Linked DNA regions of Homo sapiens: region 1 is linked to region 2. The links come from fine-mapping of genetic effects on gene expression. A gene starts in region 2. The other region holds a variant in brackets. All regions are shown on one strand. Distances are between the middles of the regions. Region 1 overlaps PPP3CA (protein phosphatase 3 catalytic subunit alpha). Region 2 holds the start of PPP3CA (protein phosphatase 3 catalytic subunit alpha).

Region 1 (3,014 bases), 40 kb before region 2:
CACTCTTGAATCAGCACTCTGTCTGGAACACCTACCACTCCACTTTTGGAATGTGGCCTGCCTCCTCCACCTGACCACCAAGGCTCCCCCTCCGGAAAGCCACAAATTATAGTGCTCAATTGCAGCCAAGAGAAGAAAGCACTTGGAGGTAAAGCCAAAGTGAGAGTGAAAGAAAAATTTCCACTAAGAAACCACCAGTAATAATAGATATATGAGCTACAGAAAAAGTAAACAAATATGGGCTGTACACCCACCACCTTCACTTCTCGGAAGAATAAGAGAAGAGAGAGAACACAAAAAGACTCGTATTCTGACTTGGGGGAAACAAAATTCAGCAGAAGCAAACCAAAAAAATAAACAAGCTGAGCTACAGATTTCATTCTCTTTGCTCTGACTTACTGTAATTCTGAAAGTTGATATATCGAGCATTACAGACTTACTGACAAAAAAACCAAATGCAACTCCCTTATTTCATATAGACTGCTTATTTTGTGAAGGTATACTCTGATTTTTTTTTGTCTGTTTGTTTAGTTGTGGTAGCTCCTTTAGTTAAGATGTGAGAATTACAGCACAGAATAGGCAAGACAAAAACAGTGAGTCCACGGGAGGATGAGGATGAGTGCTGTTTTCCTTCCTGGTAGAGAGCTGCTTCAGTAGTATTTATTGAAGGATTATATCTGAGGGAATGCATGCTATGTCTCCTCTCAAGAACCAATGCTACTGGTGGTATTGTAGGTGTTACAGCTCTATCAAAACACCAAGTAATTTTTCCTAGCAAAAACATTAAACTTCAATCATGCTGAACAAAGACTCTAAAATGGGATTAATCACTGCACTAATTTCACTTTGAACCAAAAAAAAAAAAAAAAAACAGATTCTGTTGGTACAGTGTATTTATACAAATGACCCTACCTTACGTGGAAAACCTGAATGTCTGAGGGTAAGATATGTTTGCCCTAGCTCCACTTGTGATTACAGATTAAGTTTTCCTGGTCTGCAGGAACTGAAACACAGAATGTGTTGAAATGAGAATAGCTGCCATATGTCAAGTATTTGGGAGCTTTTACCTTCGAAACAATTCTGAGAAGGTGGTTTGGCAGAGCAAAAACCTAGCAAATCAGATACGTCACCATAGTTGGCTGACCTTATCAGCTGAAAATAAATCTTCATTAGTCAAACTCTAATATATACAGATAAAGAAGGTAACTCCCTAAAAAAGTTTT[T/G]GCTTAACAAATTACTTATCTTGATTATGTAACAAATGGTTGCCATTCTTACTATAAAATGTAGTTACAACTGGTCATAAGTCCAGTGTTAAAAACACTAAAACATGGTCAAGTATAAAACAGTTTTTGGTGGAAATTTTCTTGGATGTTTCTAAATCTACCAGATGTACTTGTGGCCAACACTTGGAACACTTGGTGCCTAGTATGTGAAGCCTTCCTCCAGCGCGAATACCATACTGAATGCTTTAACACAAACCAAAGTAACCAAGGAGGTTATACTGAAGTATACACTGCTTTTTTAAGGACAAACTTCTCTTTTATAAAAATTCTATTTATACTCCAATTCCATGTTAAGTTAGGTTTCAGTAAAAGACACAATCTTCCACTTCACGATTTGAATCCTTATTGTAAACCTATTGAATCTGTTACCCGAAATAATTAGTGATAAAGAAAGCATAATGGTTACTAAGCAGTCAAGGGAGAATTTCATAATTACATATTACATTTTTTAGCCTTTTCATCTATTGGGTGTGCCTCCAAACAATTTAACAGTACACTTTATAATGACTCATGTCCACATATGACAAGGAATCCTGTATGTGCTCTCATAGATTCATACAACAAATGTCTGGCCTGAAATGTAAAATTAAAACTTATTTATCAAGATTTTAATGTATTTTTCACATACAAAAATCTTCATGTTATACAATGGAATTTTAAAAAATTATTTTCTTCAAAGATGAATAGACCTGACCCAAAGTAATCCTAAATTTTAAAACTGGAAAGGAGAAACTTCTCTATGAAAGATATTGGTATTACTATCATTCCATACTATATACAATATACTTGGTTACAGTTTTATCACAATACCTAGCATATAGAATGTTCACAAAATCCCCTTACATGTAATATTTCAGATTTTTTTTTCACAGACAAGGTCTCTGTCACCCAGGCTACAGTGCAGTGGCATGATCATAGCTCTCTGCAGCCTCCAACTCCTGGGCTCAAGTGATCTTGCAGCTTCAGCCTCCCAAGTAGCTGGGATTACAGGCACCCACCACCATACCCAGCTAACTTTTTAACTTTTTGCAGAGACAGGGTCTTGCTATGTTTCTAACTCCTGGCCTCAAGAGGTCCTCTCACTCTCAAAGCACTGGGAGTGCAGGTGTGAACCACCACACCTGGCCCATAATTATTTTTAATAAAGTGTTAGCCAAAATTCATTTATTTTGTAGTCACAAAAAATTTCATAATTCAAGTAAAACATACTTTCTGCAATGTGAAATTTTATATACATAAGATTAAACATTTTTCCATTAGCAAGAGGAAGATACTTCCCAGAAAAAGGAATCCAGAGTTTTCTACAAAGACCTCCTGGTCGGGCATTGTGGCGCATGGGCAACACAGGGAAACTCCGTCTCTACAAAAAAATACAAAACTTAGCCTGGCATGGTGGTGTGCGTCTGTGGTCTTAGCTACTTGCGAGGCTGAGGCAGAAGAATCACTTAAGCCTAGGCTATTGAGGCTACAGTGAGCCATGATTGCACCACTGCACTCCAACCAGGGTGAAGGAGCAGACCCTGTCTCAAAAACAATAATAATAATCATAATAATAATAAACCTTCCCAACCCCAGCCCCACCTTCCTCTGTCATCCCTTTTCTGTACTTTGATAGCAAGGCCTTTGTCATCTATGGAACAGAAAGGAAACAAAACGATACTACACATCAGGTATTATCTTGGTACTTCCTGTTGCTTCCAGTTACAAGGGGCTTTATTCCTGGGGATATTA
Region 2 (2,500 bases):
CTATTTCTGTCACAGCAGCTACACCCTACCAGCAACCACCCCCCGGGCGCCCCCTCCCACCACCGCCACCCCCGCCGCCACCTCCCCGCGGCTCAGCCATTTGCCAACTGACGCCCCCGTCAATAAAAATGCCCCAAGTGAGGCTGGGTGGGACGCGTGGGGGAAGGGCGCCGCGGGGGCGGGGGGTTCGCGGGGTTCGCGGGTTGCACAATATCCTAGAAGGTCCGCGGCTGGAGCGGACAGAGGAGAACCTGGGGCGGGGGAGGGGAGGAAAGGCGAGGCGAGGCAAGCTGCCCTGGCGCCTGCGGCACACGGTGCACCCAGGCCACCGCGGCGCTCCGCTTACCTTTCACCACCCTGTCGGTCGTCGACAACTTGGGATCAATTGCCTTGGGCTCGGACATCTCCAGCTGCCGGAGGACAGCGACGCGCTGCTCGTCCGTCCGACTGCACACCCCGACCGGACCGGCGGGCCAGACACTCAACGCCGCCGCCGCCGCCGCCGCCGCCGCGCTGCAAACCGCTCGGCTGGAGGTCTAGGCTCTGAGCTGGCTTTAAAGTTGCTGCCTTTTCCGCGCGTCCCTCCTCCGCCGCCGCCGCCTTCACTCCTCCTCCGCCGCTGCCGCCAGCCCCGCCGACTCGCTCCGGGCTGCGCGTGTGTGGTGGTTATTTATTTATTTTCTGAGCACGCCTCCCGGTTCTTCTTTTATTCTTGGGGGAAGGGGGATGGGGAGGAGAAGCGCACACACGAGCACCCACCCCGGCACGGAGACCCAGCACCGCGGAATGGAGCCCCACGCGCGCACACACGGCCAGGATTAAGACCGATCACATGGGGAAGGCCGGGGGCGAGGGAGGAGAGGCAGGGCCGCCGATGTCAGTGCCACCAGCCGCACCTTGGCGTCCCCGGCGGCGGAGAGGCGGCCGCCGCTGCTGCCGCTGCTGCTGCCGCTGCCGCTGTTGCTGCTGCCGCTGCCCCTGCTTCTCCACACAGAGCGCCGCCGCTGGTGCCGCGGCCGCCGGAGACGTCCCGCCGCCGCGATCGCCCGCGCTCGCCTCTGCCTCCCCGCGCCGCTCCTCCACTCACCAAGGCACAGCCGCCGAGCTCGGCAGACACAGTCCCGGGCACAACCTACCCCCCTCCGCCGCCGCCGCCGCCGCCAACACCGCGCCCGCCTCCGCCTCCTCCCCTTCCTCCTCCCGGCCCCCGCCTCTTGCGCGCCTGCAGCCTCCTCCTCCCCACTGAGCCCGCCCCCGACCTCCCGCCCCGACGCCGGAGTTCCTCGCGTTCATTGGCTAGAGGGCGCATCACTCAGTGCCAGGTGGCGGCCTCCCCGCTTGTCCCGCCTCCCGCTCCTCCTCATTGTCCCCGCCCCTTGCTCTGTTTTCTTCCAGCTGCCGGACCAGCGGGCCTGCCGCCTCTACGGACCAGTCCCTGCTCAGGTGTCACTTTTGCTGGCAGGCCGAGATTAGGGCAGGAGAGTGGGCAAGGCGTCGCGGCCAGGAGGAGAAGGGCTCTACCACGCCACCCTCCTTTGGCCTCCGAACGCGGACCCCGCACACACACACCCGCGCCTCTTTGGCAAGCGTGCCTTGTCGGCTGGGTTAAGCCGCAGTGTGAGTAGCCAAGTGCAGAGGGTGTCTCCGGGTGTGTGCGTGGCCCACAAGAGGGCAAGAAGAGAGAAGGCGGGGATAGGAGGGAAGAGGGTGGGGGTGAGAGGCAGCCCTGAGAGGGCGGAGGAAGGAAGAGGCTGGGAGCTCGGCGCCCGCGGCGCAGCTGCCGTCGCTGCCGCAGCTGTCCAGGGAGGATCGCCAAAACGGCGACGAATAAACAACTTACCTTGCGGAGAAGAGCTACGACTGCGATGCGGTGTACGGTTGTTTTTGCTTTTGCGTTGGCGGCTTAGGGGCTGTTACTGTGTCCCACCCAGGCGTGCACACCGAGCGGCGGGGCGCTGTGGAACGCGGGAGCGGACTAGCGGAGGAGGATGCGGACCAAGCCCCAGCGACCCAGGGCAACTCGGAGCTACCTCGGGCAGCCCTGCGGGTCTCCGAGGAGAACCGAGGAGACGGGAGAAACATGGGAGAGGGTGGCCTTTTCCCTGTTCACACACACATGCACGCAGCCACTGGCCGGGACAGTTGACACCCATCTTCCTTCCCTGCTCCTTCCAGTCATTCTACACCCGCTTGGTGCTGCCAGTGCGGGCAGGGCCTTGGAGCCCAAAGCGGATCCCCACACTTGTCCCTACGGTCGGAAGGAAAGTAGAGGAGAGAAAGTCAGGCGCGGCAGGGCTAAGAGCAATAGTGGCCCAAATGTTCCTGGCCCGCCTGCTGCGCCACAGAGTCTGAAAAGCGGGTCTCCGTCTACCAGAAGGTGACCTCCACACAGCCCCTCTCCCCGACCAACTGCAGCACCCAAGGACTGGCAACGTGGTTGGAGCTTTTGGGGGGAATTATGAAGAAATCTGAATAAATTTCTCACCCTTCATGTTTCCTG

What was found. PIP is the estimated chance that this variant, and not a neighbour inherited with it, causes the effect. A credible set is the group of variants that fine-mapping cannot tell apart.
Region 1: its variant is the best candidate, but not a certain one, in a credible set for the expression of PPP3CA in fibroblasts (GTEx, PIP 0.78).

What each region holds. Positions count from the first base shown.
Region 1 is chr4:101,306,316-101,309,329 of GRCh38, forward strand. The region is part of intron 1 of PPP3CA (protein phosphatase 3 catalytic subunit alpha); the gene reads right to left. Among named protein-coding and RNA genes, the nearest start is that of MIR1255A, 23 kb to the right of the region's middle. The variant T/G (reference allele first, on the strand shown) is at 1,224.
Region 2 is chr4:101,346,393-101,348,892 of GRCh38, forward strand. PPP3CA (protein phosphatase 3 catalytic subunit alpha) reads right to left here and starts at 1,134. Exons shown (of 14, transcript NM_000944.5): 1 at 347-1,134. The coding sequence starts at 404. PPP3CA-DT (PPP3CA divergent transcript) reads left to right here and starts at 1,385. Exons shown (of 2, transcript NR_033874.1): 1 at 1,385-1,617; 2 at 1,932-2,491. RefSeq lists silencers at 1-289, 760-1,369.